2 separate regions of the Homo sapiens genome follow, and region 1 is linked to region 2. A link means that fine-mapping ties the variant in region 2 to the expression of a gene that starts in the linked region. Tissue or cell type: whole blood. Region 2 holds a variant in brackets; the other region holds the start of a gene. All regions are shown on one strand. Distances are between the middles of the regions.

Region 1 (8,233 bases), 230 kb after region 2:
GTAGCTGGGACTACAGACGCGTGCCACCACACCCAGCTATGTTTTTGTATTTTTAGTAGAGACGGGGTTTCACCGTGTTAGCCAGGATGGTCTTGATCTGCTGACCTCATGATCCGCCCGCCTGGGCCTCCCAAAGTGCTGGGATTACAGGCGTGAGCCACCACGCCCAGCCTCAGCTGACTTTTGAAAACACAATTCAAAGATGGGCAAATGATCTGAATGTACATTTTTCTAAAGATAAAAAGGTCAACTGCACATGAAAAGATGCTGAACATCATTAGACACCAGGGAAATGCAAATCAAAACCACATTAAGATACCACTTCACACATTAAGGTGAGTGTAATTAAAAAGACAAGTGTGGATGAGGATGTGGAGAAATTCTCTTGTTTTTTTGTGGAGGGGAGTGAAGTGGGAAGTGGTGCTGCCACGTTGGCAAACAGCCTAGCATTTTACCAGAAGATTAAACATAAAAGTTCGTCTCATGAACAAGGCATTCCACTCCTAGGTATATACCCAAGAGAAATATTCACAGCAGCATTATTCATATTAGCCAAAAAGGAGAAACAACCCAAATGTCTATCTACCGATGAACGGATAAATGAAAATGTGGTATATCCATACAATGGACTATCATTTGACAATAGAAAATGAAGGCCAGGCATGGTGACTCATGCCTGTAATCCTCAGCACTTAGGGAGGCTGTAGTGGGTGGATCACATTAACCCAGGAGTTCAGACCAGCCTGGTAACACAGTGAGATCTCATCTCTACCAAAAATTTAAAAAAATAGCCAGGCTTGGTGGCCCACACCTGTGGTCCTACCTACTCGGGAGGCTAAGGTGGAAGGCCGAGCTAGGGAGGTCGAGGGCACCACGGCACTCCAGCCTGGGTGACAGAGAAAGACCTTGTCTCATTAAAAAAAGGAATGAGGCTAGGCACGGTGGCTCACGCCTGTAGTCCCAGCACTTTGGGAAGCCAAGGTGGGCGCATCACGAGGTCAGGAGATCCAGACCACTCTGGCCAACATGGTGAAAGAACGTCTCTACTAAAAATACAAAAATTAGCCGGGTGTGGTGGAGCATGCCTGTAATCCTAGCTACTTGGGAGGCTGAGGCAGGAGAATCACTTGAACCCGGGAGGCAGAGGTTGCAGTGAGCCGAGATTGCGCCACTGCACTCTAGCCTGGCGACAGAGGTAGATTTGGTGCTGTGACTCAGATCTGGGGACCTCCCTTGGGAGATCAATCCCCTATCCTCCTGCTCTTTGCTCTGTGAGAAAGATCCACCTATGACCTCAGGTCCTCAGACCGACCAGCCAAGGAACATCAATCCAATTTTAAATCAGGTAAGTGGCCTCTTTTTACTCTCTTCTCCAACCTCTCTTACTATCCCTCAACCTCTTTCTCATTTCAATCTTGGCGCCACACTTCAATCTCTCCCTTCTCTCAATTTCAGTTCCTTTCCTTTTCTCGTAGACAGGAGACGTGTTTTATCCATGGACCCAAAACTCCGGCGCCGGTCATGGACTCGGGAAGACAGTCTTCCCTTGGTGTTTAATCATGCGGGGACGCCTGCCTGATTATTCACCCACATTTCAGAGGTGTCTGACCACGTGGGGATGCCTGCCTTGGTCCTTCACCCTTAGCGGCAAGTACTGCTTTTCTGGGGGCAAGAACCCCCTGACCCCCTTCTCTCCATGTGTCTACCCTTCTCCGCTTTTCTGGGGGTCAAGAACCCCTGAACCCTTCTCTCCATATCTCTAGCCCTTCTCCACTTTTCTGGGGTGCAAGAACCCCCCGGTCCCTTCTCTCTGTGTCTCTACCCCTTCTCTGCTTTTCTGGAGGACAAGAAGCCCCCACCCCTTCTCTCCATGTCTCTACTCTCTCTTTTTTCTGGGCTTGCCTCCTTCACTATGGGCAAGCTTCTGCCCTCCATTCCCCCTTCTCCCTTAGCCTGTGTTCTTAAAGACCTAAAACCTTCCTCCTTATATCAACTCTACTCCCCCCATATTTAGACCTCTCACAACACAAACTACTATTCCTGTGGCAGCTCCTTTATGTATCTCTCAGCAAAGACCCACTGGAATTCCCCTAGGTAAACTTTCACCTTCTCGATGTTCCTTTACTCTTCATCTCCAAAGCCCAACTACACACATCACTGAAACAATTGGAGCCTTCCAGCTCCATATTACAGACAAGCCCTCTATCAGTAGTGGCAAACTTAAAAACATTAGCAGTAATTATTGCTTAGGAAGACACTTACCCTGTATTTCACTCCATCCTTGGCTACCTTCCCCTTGCTCGTCAGACTCTTCTCCCAGGCCCTCTTCTTGCTTACTTATACCCAGCCCTGAAAATAACAGTGAAAGGTTGCTTGTAGATACTCGACGTTTTCTCATACACCATGAAAATCGAACCTCCCCCTCGACGCAATTACCTCATCAGTCCCCATTACAACCTCTGACGACTGCCGCCCTAGCTGGATCCCTAGGATTCTAAGTACAAGACACCCCTTTCAGCACTCCTCATCTTTTTACTTTGCATCTCCAGTTTTGCCTCGCACAAGGTCTCTTTTTCCTCTGTGGATCCTCTACCTACATGTGTCTACCTGCTAATTGGACAGGCACATGCACACTAGTTTTCCTTACTCTCAAAATGCAATTTGCAAATAGGACTGAAGAGCTCCCTGTTCCCCTCATGACACCGACACGACAAAAAGAGTTATTCCACTAATTCCCTTGTCAGTTTAAGACTTTCTGCCTCCACTATTGCTCTCGGTACTGGAATAGCAGGCATTTCAACCTCTGTCAGGACCTTCCATAGTCTCTCTAATGAATTCTCTGCTAGCATCACAGTCATATCACAAACTTCATCAGTCCTCCAGGCCCAAGTTGACTCTAGCTGCAGTTGTCCTCCAAAACCGCCGAGGCCTTGACTTACTGCTGGAAAAGGAGAACATCTGTATATTCTTAAATGAAGAGTGTTGTTTTTACCTAAATCAATCTGACCTGGTGTATGACAACATAAAAAAACTCAAGAATAGAGCCCAAAAACTTGCCAACCATGGGGGAGTAACTGCTGATGAGTATGGGATTCTCTTTTGGGGCAATGAAAATGTTCTAGAGTTAGATTGTAGTCATGGTTGCACAACTCAATATACTAAAAACCACTGATTTATACACTTTAAATGAGATGAAATATATGATTTTATGTCAATAAAGCTGTTACAGAAGGGAATGTCTTTAATCTATCAAAAACACATAGCAAACATGTAAGTAGTGACAAGCTGAAAGCTTTCTTTCTGAGACCTGGAAGGCAGCAAGGATTGCTCCTTCTAATGTTTCGGAGGTCGTAGGCAGGGCAGTAAATTTGTAGGGCAGGAGTGGGTCGTAATAGGATTATAAAGGGAGAATAAAGTTCTTATTCATAAACGATATGTCAATATGTAAACATCCAAAAGAAACTACAGGTAAACTGAAAACTAAGGTCTGCTGCTTGCTGCATACAAAACACACCCTGAGGGCTCAAAAAAGCACAAGTCCCATAGAGGGGGATCTGGTCATACCTAGGAATTACACATTCATTTATGCTTTGACCCAACAACTTGACTTTCAAAAATAAACCTTGAAGACCTAAGTCCACAAATACGAAAAAACATGCACAAGCCCACTCAGATAGGAACTCAAATGTGTATCAGGCACTAGGGTGCATCCACATAACAGAGGGGAAAAAAAGGGACGATCTCCACAAACCAATAACGCGCATCCCAAGATATGCCTTCTAACAACGGAAAGTGAGGTCCAAGAGAGCATTTTCTTGAGAAAAAATAGTCTCCTACTGGGGACGACGTTTAAAGAGAAGGGTACAGAAAGTGGAGAAAAGGCCCCGCCGACGCACTCTGACCACATGAACCCACTTGCCTCCTCCCGGGAACCAATGCCCGGAATGGCAGCCCCAAGCCCAGCAGTGCCGGGAGGAACCAAAGCCGGCGGCCTCTGAGAAGAAACGCCGCGATAGCCGGAGGCTGGGGCGGGAAGCTGCAGGCAAGGTCTGGAGCAGCCGGGGCTGCGCACTGTGCCCTTGACCCCTTCCCTCCCGATTCCGCCGGCCTCACTAGTGGGGCGCACCTGGACCTGGCCTGCTGGGACAGCAACCCTTTCTCAGCTGCAGGCGACAGCTATGGGAGATGGCGAGGCGACGGACGCCCACTTCCGCTTCCGGCCAGCAGCTGAAAGGGGTGGGCTGCCCAGCTCGCACATTTGGCGGATTCGCCCTGAGGACTTGGGAACGGGGCATCGCAGGTGCTCCTGCTCCCTTAGGGCGAAGGCTGGGACTGTCTTTATTCATTGCATTAGAGTAAAATAAGAGGCACAAGCCAATTAACTTGCTTGGGTCTCAAAGCTAAGTAAAAGAGTCCACAGAACTAGAATCCGTACTGTCTTCCCCAAGGGAAAAAGCAAATGTCCCCAGAGGAAAATTGGACTCTGCAGCCGCAGAGGGAAAGGGGTCCAATTGCTCCCTCCCCTCTTCCTGACCAAAGGAAGACCCCCGAGGTCAGAGATGTTTTGGTCCGGACTCCAGTTTAAACAATTAAGTCCAGGTATTTAAAAAAAAACGGAGGGTCTCTGTGAGCACTTGAAATTATCCGCCAACAAAGGAGATCCTGTTTGGCCCAACAGGGTTTGACTCACATCTATATGATTGGAACCTTGGAATTAAAACTGAAAAGCTCAGTCCGGTGGTAGAAAAAAAGATGATTTTTAAATGGCTTTGGAGTTATTCACTGTTCAGACATCCCAAATCCAGGCTTTAAAAAAATCTCAATAGCCGCTCTTTGTCCCTTTTCCAGACACTCCCATGAATAAGATTCCTACTAGACAGAAGGATTTAAGAATGGTTAAGATAATCATTACTTTAAAAATTATTGTTTTGAGATTGAGCTTTGCTTGTCATCCAGACTGTAGTGCAGTGGCGCACTGTGGGCTCAGTGCAACCTCCGCCTCCCAGGTTCAAGCAATTCTCCTGCCTCAGCCTACCAAGTAGCTGGGATTACAGGCGGCTGCCACCATGCCCGGCTAATTTTTGTATTTTTAGTAGAGACGGGGTTTCACCATGTTGGCCAGGCTGGTCTTGAACTCCTGACCTCAAGTGATCCACCCGTCTAGGCCTCCCAAAGTGCTGGGATTACCGGCGTGAGTGCCCGGCCAGAGAATCATTGTTAATGTTATTCACTAGAGCCATTCAGAACTAAGAATCCTGGTTAAAGGAAATCTCAACCCCTCCTGGCAGTCTGTGCCTCTCACAGAGACCAGCTCCATAAAATAACTGCCTATAAACAGAAGATCCTTAAAGCACTAGGGATTAATTACTAACATTAGATTTAGACATTAGGGCCATTGTGTTTAAAACAAAAATTTCAATCTACATCCAAAAAGGGAAAGATTTTAAGAAGTTAGGTTCTTTTCTTTAGCACATGATTACAGCCTAAAAAGGAACTACTAGGGGAAGTGTGAGGATATTTACACACTTTCATTGACCAAGGACTCTTGGCTTTGTTCTGGGGACAAAGTGTGATGGTCGGAGGCAGAAGTAAAATGACTGTTAGCCCTCCTGAGCTCCATGGCAAACACACAGCCTTTGTTAATGCTGGTCTTGGCCTCCACCTGTATTCATGCACGAGGTAGAACCTCTCTTTTTTCTAGAGAAAACGCCAAGGCTGCATGCATGCAGATGCAAGGGCAGGCTGCTTGTTCACTGGAATACAGCTACTTCACTGATTACACTGATTCCATTTTTAAATTATTTTTTTTTTTTTCTGGAGAGGGAGGTTGGATAGAGGAGAAGGAAGTTTCAGGGAGTCAAAGGCCCAGAAACTCAGTGGAATGACTCTTCTCACCACCTGTTCTGTTCCCTGCTGCTGACAATTCCCACTGAGCCCTTCAAGTGTCTCCCACACACAGGACAAGTACTGCTGCTCCTACCTCCTCTCCCATGGACGCAAACATTGGTGGGAGCAATCATTTTATTTTTATGGCAAAGAGAAGCCCTGAGGGGACCCACATGGATGTCTTCAAGGTGACAGGCAGAGCCTGAGGCTCTGAAAAAGGCTGGCCTAAAACTACTGCACTAGATGTGCATTTCCCGCTTGGACGAATCTCATTTGAGAATTAATGACATAGCCTTTGCCTACGTGGGGCCCTGTTGGCTCTGACTGCAGTCAGGTTTGGGGTAGGCAGTGTAGAAACCCCCAAGATACCCTCACAGGCATCTGTAACACTCATGTTAGGGGTTTATTTATACTAAACCACAGTAGGTTCATGCAAATCTAAAAACACTTTATGACGTGTTTGTGTCTAAAATCCTTAATCTCTTAAAGCAATTAAAAAAAAAAAAAGCAGACCCCAAATTGAAAACAGGCTTTCCAATTTCAATGGGTAGTATTTTCTTCCGAGTCCTGTATTATCATTGGCCAGATTTTCAGAATTATTTTTTTAAAAGACTACTTTAGGAATTTTGTTAAAGGATACTGTCACCATTTATGCATCAAAAACTGGCAAAATTGTGCCACCTATGGATCCAGAGCAGAGACATGTTTGAATACAAATTCCCAATGAAACTAAACCTGGGGGTTTTCAGGGCTCAAAATCAAAACCTATAGCCTTGTTAAATGCTCATATATACTTTTTTTTTTTTTCTGAGACGGAGTCACCCTCTGTTGCCCAGGCTGGAATGCAGTGGCGCAATCTCAGCTCACTGCAACCTCCGCCTCCCGGGTTCAACCTGTTCTCATGTCTCAGCCTCCCCAGTAGCTGGGATTATAGGTGCCTGCCACCATGCCTGGCTAATTTTTGTATTTTTAGTAGAGATGGGCTTTTGCCACATTGGTCAGGTTGGCCTCGAACTCCTGACCTCAGGTGATCCACCCGTCTTGGCCTCCCAAAGTGTTGGGATTACAGGTGTGAGCCACCGTGTCCAGCCTCACATATGCTATTAACTTTTCATTCCTTTGTCAACTGCAAGAATCGTAGTATTTGACAAGTTGGGTTTTTCTTGTCAAATATTACCATTCTTGCAGTTGACAAAGGAATGAAAGTTTTTTTTTTTTTCAGTAGCTTGGCAAAACAATCCTCTTATTTCCGATGACAACAATACTCTCATTTTCTTCTAATTCCTGAAAATCAACATGTAACATACTTCATTTTATTGTGCTTTGCAGATAACGTGTGGGGTTTTATTTTTATTACAAATTGAAGGTTATTACAAATTGAAGGTTTGTGGCCACTGATGAAGTCTACTAGCACCATTTTTCCAATAACACATACTCACTTTGTTTCTCTGTCAGAATTTTTAAGCAAAGTATTTTACAATTAAGGTGCATCCTTTGTTTTTTAGACATAATGCTACTGCACACAATAGACTATAATTTTTTTTTTTTTTTTAAGATGCAGTATTGCTCTGTTGCCTAGGCTGGAGTGCCATGGCACAATCTCAACTCACTGCAGCCTCCACCTCCTGCGTTCAAGTGATTCTCCTGCCTCAGCCTCCCAAGTAGCTGGGATTGTAGGTGTGCTCCACCACACCTGGCTAATTTTTACATTTTTAGTAGAGAATGGGGTTTCACCATGTTGGACAGGCTGGTCTTGAACTCTTGACCTCAGGTGATCCACCACCCACCTCGGCCTCCCAAAGTGCTGGGATTATAGGCATGAACCACCACGCTCAGCATTTTTTTTTTTTTTTTTTTTTTTTTTTGAGACAGGGTATTACTCTGTCACCCAGGCTGGAATGCAGTGGCACAATCATAGCTTATTGCAGCCTTGAACTCCTGGGCTCAAGCAATCCACCTGCCTCAGCCTCCTGAATAGCTAGAACTACAGCTACTCCACCACACCTGACTGATGTAAAACATTTTTTTTGTAGAGATGGGGTCTTGCTATAGTTGCCCAGGCTGGTCTCAAACTCCTAGACTCAAGTGATCCTCCTACCTCAGCTTCTCAAAGCACTGGGATTACAGGTGACAGCCACCTCACCCAGCCAACGTAACTTTTATATGCACTAGGAAACCAAAAAATTTGTATGACTCACTTTACTATGATGGTCTGTGGAAGCGAACTCACATATCTCCGAGGTATGACTGTACATAACTGTGAAAACCTGAAATTAAATAAACTGTATTGTCTACAGATGCCAAAACAGTGGCAAAAAAATAAATAGCCCTTACTTATATTTTACCC
Region 2 (8,233 bases):
TGCAGGACCTAAGGGAGATGATAATAAAAGGAAATCAGGAATCAGTACCCTGAACCCGCAATCTTTCTAAAGCGCTTGATATACAACAGGAAAAGGATGAAGGGACTGTGAGATTCCTAGACAGACTGAGGGAGCAAATGAGGCAATATGCAGGCCTTACTTTGGATGATCTCCTTGGGCAAGGAATGTTGAAACTCCAATTTGTCAGTAAAAGTTGCCTAGACATTTCAAAAAAGTTATAAAAAATAGACAATTGGGAAGACCGTCCTCTAAGTGAGCTTCTCAGGGAAGCTTAGAAAGTACATGTGAAACGGGATGAAGAAAAACAGAAACAAAAAACAAAACTTATGTTTTCCACCTTCCAACAGATGGCTCCAAACCCAGGTACTTCTAGACAGAGCTTCCAGGGACCTAGAAAGTATAAAGGGTCTGAACCCTGTTTTAAAGGCCCCCAGCCTCCATCTGGAGGACAAAGGTCCTCATCTACCAGGCCCCCTAAAGAGTATGGGGGGACAGGGTTAAAGAATCCCAGAACTAAGAGGGAGGAAGGACAAGATATGTGCTATAGATGTGGAAGAACAGGCCACTTCAAGAGAGAATGTCCTGAACTAAGGAGAAAGAAGCCCTTCCACTCATGACTTTCAAGGAATAGGGGGGTCAGGGGCCCTGTCTCTTTTATCTTGAGTCCCACCAGGAGCCCTTGATCAATTTGGATGTGGGACCTAAACATGAGCTTATCGCCTTTTTAGTCGATTCAGGGGCTGCTCGCTCCTGTTTGTTTCCCCCCATCTAATGTTGGCTCCTCCTCAGAGGAACTTTTAGTTTCCAGGGTAAAAGGGGAAGGATTTAGAGCAAAAATTTTACAAAGCACAGAAGTTAGACACCAGGATCGCTCAGCTTATATTCAGTTCTTGTTAATCCCTGAAGCAGGAACTAATTTCCTGGGGAGGGATTTAATGTTAAAGTTGGGCATAGGTCTACAAGTCAGCCCAAGAGAATTCTTCACCCCATTAAACCTACTCACCACTGCGGATGAAAAATATATTAATCCTAATGTCTGGTCCAAAGAAGGAGACTAAGGGAAACTCCAAGTCCCTCCAATCCACATCAGCTAAAAACCCCAGGAGAAGTAGTAAGAAGGAAACAATACCCTATTCCCCTAGAAGGCAGGATAAGGTTGAAACCTATAATCAAAGGCCTTATTAAGGACGGGCTTCTCCAGCCCTGTATGTCTCCTTAAAACACCCCAATACTGCCAGTCAAGAAATCAGATGGGTCATATCGGCTAGTACAGGACTGTAGAGCTATCAACCAAATAGTCCAGACTACCCACCCCGTTGTCCCCAATCCTTACACTATTCTTAACAAGATTTCATGTAATCATCAATGGTTTACTGTAATAGATTTGAAGAATGCTTTTTGGGCATGTCCCCTGGCTGAAGATAGCTGAGATCCCCAATCAGGGTGGAAACAACAATATCGATGGACAGTCTTGCCCCAAGGGTTCACAGACTCCCCTAATCTTTTTGGCCAAAGTTTAGAACAAGTACTAGAAAAAGTTGTCATCCCAGAACAAATATACCTTCTTCAGTACGTGGACAACATTCTTATATCTGGTGAAGATATAGAGAAGGTAACTGACTTCTCTACACATATTCTTAATCACCTGTAGTTTGAGGGGCTACGAGTCTCAACAAGAAAGCTTCAGTATGTAGATCCCGAAGTTAAGTATTTAGGCCACTTAATAAGTGCAGACAAGTGAAGAATAGGGCCTGAACGAATTGAGGGAATTGTGTCCCTACCCTTGCCTCAAACTAAACAAGAACTCAGGAAATGTTTAGGATTAGTTAGATACTGCCGCTTTTGGATTGACTCATATGCACTGCACAGTAAACTGTTATATCAAAAACTTGCTCAGGAGAAACCTAACTGTCTCCTGTGGACTTCTGAGGAAGTTGATCAAGTTGAGAAGCTGAAGGAAAGGCTCATAACTGCCCCTGTTTTAGCCTAACCCTCCCTGGAAAAGCCATTCCACCTTTTTGTTAATGTGGACAGTGGGATAACTTTAGGAGTGCTGACTCAAGAGCATGGAGGCTGCCGACAGCCTGTAGCCTTCCTACCAAAAGCCTCAGACCCAGTCACTTGTGGATGGCCTCAATGCATCCAGTCCATCGCAGCTACAGCAATAGTAGTCAAGGAAAGCAGAAAGTTAACCTTTGGAGGAAAATTGACAGTAAGCACGCCTCACCAAGTTAGAACTATCTTAAACCATAGAGCAGGGAGATGGCTTACTGACTCAAGAATCTTAAAGTATGAGGCCATTCTGTTAGAAAAAGATGATTTATGGCCGGGTATGGTGGCTTATGCCTGTAATCCCAGCACTTTGGGAGGCCGAGGCTGGTGGATCACAAGGTCAATAGATCAAGACCATCCTGGCCAACATGGTGAAACCCCATCTCTACTAAAAATACAAAAATTAGCTGGGCGTGGTGGCACACGCCTGTAGTCCCAGCTACTTGGCAGGCTGAAGCAGGAGGATCGCTTGAACCTGGGAGTTGGATGTTGCAGTGAGTTGAGATGGCACCACTGCACTCCAGCCTGGTGACAGAGTGAGACTCCGTCTCAAAAAAAGAAAAAAAAAAAAGGATGGTTTAACACTGACCACTGATAATTCACTCAACCCAGCAGGTTTCCTACAGGGAATCCAAATCTAAGGAGAGAACACACATGTTTAGATTTAATTGATTACCATAGAAAGGTTCGACCAGACCTAGGAGAAACCCCCTTCTGGACTGGAGGGCACTTATTCATAGATGGTTCCTCCTGGGTGATTGAGGGAAAAAGACACAATGGGTATTCAGTGATTGATGGAGAAACTCTCATAGAAATAGAGTCAGAAAAATTGCCCAACAGTTGGTCTGCTCAAATGTGTGAGCTGTTTGCACTCAGCCAAGCCTTAAAGTACTTACAGGACCAGGAGGGAACTATCTATACCGATTCTAAGTACACCTTTGAAGTGGCTCATACATTTGGAAAAATTTGGACTGAACGAGTTCTCATTAATAGTAAAGGTCAAGACCTTGTTCACAAGGAGCTGATCACCCAAGTATTGAATAATCTTCAGTTGCCGGAAAAAATAACTATTGTCCATGTTCCCGGACAACAGAAAAACCTCTTTTGAAAGTCGAGGAAATAACCTAGCAGATCAGGTAGCCAAGCAGGCTGCTGTGTCTTCTGAAATGCATATTTTTCACTTAACTCCCTACCTCCCTCCTCCTACCATAATCCCCATTTTCTCTTCCACCAAAAAAGAGAAACTAATAAACATAGACGCTAAAGAGAATTCAGAAGGAAAGTGGATGCTGTCAGACCAGAGAGAAATGTTGTCCAAACCCCTTATGAGGGAAGTCTTATCCTAACTACATCATGAGACCCACTGGGGGCCCCAGGCCATGTGTGATGCAGTTCTCAGAGTTTATAGTTATATAGGAATTTATACTCTGGCCAAACAGGTTACAGATAGTTGCTTAGTATGTAAGAAAACTAATAGACATACTATAAAAAGATTACCTCTCGGGGGAAGGAATCTGGGCTTAAGGCCATTCCAAAGTATCCAAGTTGATTACACAGAAATGCCTCCAATAGGTCGTCTAAAATATTTACTAGTGATAGTAGACTACCTCACTCACTTGGTTGAAGCTGTCCCCTTTTCAAATGCAACAGCCAATAATGTAGTTAAGGCCTTAATTGAAAATATAGTACCCAGGTTTGGACTAATAGAAAATATTGACTCAGACAATGGAACTCATTTCACCACACACATTATTAAAAAGCTATCCCAAACATTAGACATTAAATAGGAACACCATACTCCCTGGCACCCACCCTCATCAGGGAGAGTAGAAAGAATGAATCAGACTCTAAAGAACCACTTAACCAAATTAGTCTTAGAGACTCGATTGCCATGGACCAAGTGTCTTCCTATCGCCCTGCTGAGAATTCAAACTGCACCACGGAAAGACGTTGGTCTTTCTCCTTATGAGATGCTCTATGGATTACCTTATTTGCACTCCACTGCTGATATTCCTACCTTTGAAACAAAAGATCAATCCTTAAAAATTATATACTTTGTCTATCTTCTATTCTCTCTTCTCTTAAAACTAAAGGTCTATTAGCACAGGTGCCACCCTTAGAGTTCCCAGTGCATCATCAGCCTGGGGATCATGTCCTCATCAAGAGCTGGAAAGAGGAGAAGCCTGAGCCAGCCTGGGAATCTCATTACTTACTGCTCCTCACTACTGAAACCGCAGTCCGCA[C/T]GGCAGAGAGAGGATGGACTCATCACACCAGAGTCAAGAACGCGCCACCACCTCCAGAGTGGTGGGCCATAGTCCCAGGGGAAAACCCTACCAAACTAAAGCTAAGAAGAATTTAACTGTCTTTCATCTATTCTATTACTCTTTCTTCTTTCCTCGCTCTGTTGCTGACCATCTAGTTATTAACATAACCAAGTCAATTTTGCCTCAAACTGTTGCATTTAATGCTTGCCTTGTTATACCCTGTGGGGATTTGTCAAGTCAAAGGCAGCTCACTACTTCAGAAAAGCACCTCTGTCCCTCCTGGCTCTCCTCAGACTGGGCATTAGTGAATTAGGACCATTTAATCTGGGAGATTTCCATAAAGATCCCAGTGGAAACCAGGAGTCTTGACCCCAACCCCCGATGTAGAGCTTTTATGCCGTAGTTGGTCCAACGTTCTGTGGACCACCAAAGAGCAAGGATGGACTGCCCTAACCAGTTTTTGGAATTTCCTAAAACCATACATTCATTTACTAAAGGGACAGCCCCCCCCAACTGTCAGCCAAACCAGTGCAACCCTATACAGGTTAGTATTTTGAGCCCCAAAGTTCTCCTTTTCTAAGCCAGTTCCTTTCTTTAAGCCGGTTTTATGGTATAGGGGCTGAGGTTTCAAGGACAGACCCTACTGGATTCTTTGAAATGCGTTTCTTTGATCTCCCGCTGCCTGCACCTGCCTCTTAGCCTTTTTCCAAAACCTCTCACAACGGAACCATTGTTCCTCCTCCATCTAAGGACAAGGCCATGATAGCGATGGTAGAAGTTAAAGACTTAAACTTTGGCAATTGAGACAGGATACCAAGATGTAAATACCTGGTTGGAATGGATCAAATATTCCATCCGCATGTTAAACAAAAGCAATTGTTATGCTAGTGCGCACAGCAGGCCAGAGGCCCAGATTGTCCCCTTTCCACTAGGGTGGTTCTCCAATAGACCGGGCATGGGCTGCATGGTAACTCTTTTCCAGGATTCTACAGCCTAGGGTAAAGAGTCATGCCGACTCTCTGTCTCTGCTATATCCTGAAGTTCAACAACATGCTGGTCAGCCCCCGAGGGCCATCCAGCTTCCATCTCCCAACATTAAGTTCACTTCGTGTCTCTCACAACAGAGAGGAAACTTAGTGTTCCTTGGAGACCTGAAGGGATGCAGTGAGCTTAAGAACTTTCAAGAGCTTACCAATCAGTCAGCCCTTGCTCATCCCTGAGCGGATGTGTGGTGGTATTGTGGTGGACCTTTACTGGACACTCTGCTGAATAACTGGAGTGGCACTTGTGCTTTAGTCCAATTGGCTATCCCTTTCACCCTGGCATTTCAGCAACCAGAGGGAGGAAAGATAAGACTTCGTAAAGCAAGACAAGCCCGTTATAGGTCTTTCAACTCTCACGGCTATTTAGATGCAATTGGAGTCCCACGGGGAATACCAGATCAATTTAAAGCCCAAAATCCAATAGCTGCAGGATTTAAGTCAATATTTTGGTAGGCGACAGTTAATAAAAATGTAGATTGGGTGGGCCGGGCGCGATGGCTCATGCCTGTAATCCCAGCACTTTGGGAGGCCGAGGCGGGCGGATCACAAGGTCAGGAGATTGAGACCATCCTGGGTAACGCGGTGAAACCCTGTCTCTACTAAAAATACAAAAAATTCACCGGGCATGGTGGCAGGTGCCTGTAGTCCCAACTACTCAGGAGGCTGAGGTAGGAGAATGGCATGAACCCAGGAGGCGGAGCTTGCAGTGAGCCAAGATCGCACCACTGCATTCCAGCCTGGGTGACAGAGTGAGACTCCATCTCAAAAAAAAAAAAATGTAGATTGGGTAAACTACATCTATTACAACCAACAGCGATTTATTAACTACACTAGAGATGCTGTTAAAGGAATAGCTGAGCAATTGGGGGCTACTAACCTGATGGCTTGGGAAAATAGGATAGCTTTAGACATGGTATTAGCAGAAAGAGGAGGAGTTTGCATCATTATTAAAACTCATTGTTGCAACTTCATCCCAAACAACACGGCCCCTAATGGAAGTATAAGAAAGGCATTGCAAGGCCTGACTCCTCTATCCAATGAGTTGGCCAGCAATTCAGGGGTAAATTACCCATTTACAGAATGGCTAGAAAAGTGGTTCGGTAAATGGAAAGGAATAATAGCCTCAATTCTCACCTCCCTTGTAGCCGTAATGGGTGTACTTATCCTTGTCAGGTGCCGTGTCATACCATGCATCTGTAGGTTGGTGCAGAGGCTCATAGAAATGGCACTTACTAAAACCTCCTTTAACTATCCTCCACCTTATCCAGAGAAGCTCCTTCTTTTGGAAAATCAAGCAGAACAACTAAGTCAAGACATGTTAAATAAGTTTGAAGAGAAAGCCATAAAAAAAATGCAAGAGGAGGAAGTTGTTGAAAATGAATTATAAATTTCTCTTCAAAGAATTAATATGTCAGTATGCTCAATTCTTTGCCTTCTACTTTTAAACTTAACTTCCTCATAAAGCACCCTTTTCCCAAACCGCTCACTCCATCACTCTCTTTAAATTAGTCAATCGGAATTAGTTTAGCCTGTGAGGTCCAACCCTAGCCAGTAGGGGAACGACAGAGCAGTAGGGACCACGTGTGTCAGGAATAAGAACCCCTTTCCCTCCCTTGTCCAGGTGTGTGCCCACCATTGCTCCATCTGTGAGAGTGCACCCTTCTATAGAAGTATCTTGCCTTGCTGAGAATTAAAAAGAAAATTTTATATTCAAGTGTTATTTCTTTTGTGGCACCAAAACTTTATATGTGACAGACTGGAAGTTCAAGAGCAGCCTGGGCAACATAGAGAGATCTCTTCTCTACCCAAAATATTTTTAAAAATTAGCTGGATGTGGTGGTGTACATATGTATTCCCTGGTACTTGGGCAGGAGGATTACTTGAGCTCACAAAGTAAAGGCTGCACTGAGCAATGATAACGCTACTACACTCCAGCCTGTGTGACAGAGTGAAACCCTGTCAAAAAGAAAAAAAAAAAGTAGAATGTGATTTTAAACATCAGAACTAAACAGAATGATATGCTCAGAGAGGTTTCCCTATCCCTATCCTCTCCATTTTGTTCTTATCCCACCATTCTGTTCAAGCCCTTCCCATCTATCCCCGATAGATTCTGAATCTTATTATTTTCAGGATAGTCCTATCAGTGTTTCCCTGTACTCAGAATGAACAGATAATTACATATTTTATTTTTATTTTTTTGAGACTGAGTCTCACTCTATCGCCCAGGCTGGAGTGCAATGGCGCGATCTTGGCTCAATACAACCGCCGCTTCCCGGGTATAAGCAATTCTCCTGCCTCATCCTCCCGAGTAGCTGGGATTACAGGCGCCCGCCACCATGCCCGGCTAATTTTTGTATTTTTAGTAGAGGCGGAGTTTCACCATGTTGGCCAGACTTGTCCTTCAGAACTTTTTAACTGGAAGATATGCTGCCAGGCTGCTGAGCATCGTCACTTAGTCATATAAGCCCCCTCTTTGATTCCCCTTCTCCTCTGGGAGTCTTTCTTCCTTTCCACCCTTTCTGAGCAGCGACCCACAGGTAGAAGCCTGTGGATATTCTCTTGCTGTTTGCTACCTCCCGCCACTCCTTACCTGTCAAAGCACATCCCAAATGAAGCTTGTGTGCTACTGCCGCCTTGTGGTCACGTCTTTTTCCTTACTCAGCCAAGAAATCACTTACACCCTGAATGCGTATATGGTTTTATTTTTCACATTTAGATCCCTAGTCCATTTAGAGTTTATTCTTGTATATGCTGTGAAGTATGGATTTAATTTCATCTTTTCTCTGATGGCTACCCAGCTGTCTTAGACTTTCCATTACAAATGGCTTTTTTTGCCTCATTGATCTGAAATAC

The links. PIP is the estimated chance that this variant, and not a neighbour inherited with it, causes the effect.
Region 1: it holds the start of ZNF177, and the variant in region 2 is fine-mapped to the expression of ZNF177 in whole blood (TOPMed, PIP above 0.99).

What each region holds. Positions count from the first base shown.
Region 1 is chr19:9,358,978-9,367,210 of GRCh38, reverse strand. ZNF177 (zinc finger protein 177) reads right to left here and starts at 4,198. Exons shown (of 8, transcript NM_001172651.2): 1 at 4,127-4,198; 2 at 2,263-2,349. It overlaps ZNF559-ZNF177 (ZNF559-ZNF177 readthrough), which reads right to left. Exons shown (of 13, transcript NM_001384659.1): 7 at 2,263-2,349.
Region 2 is chr19:9,586,673-9,594,905 of GRCh38, reverse strand. It overlaps LOC105376914 (a long non-coding RNA gene), which reads left to right. Exons shown (of 2, transcript XR_936311.3): 2 at 4,167-4,437. Among named protein-coding and RNA genes, the nearest start is that of ZNF121, 6.3 kb to the right of the region's middle. RefSeq lists an enhancer at 4,825-5,471. The variant C/T (reference allele first, on the strand shown) is at 4,317.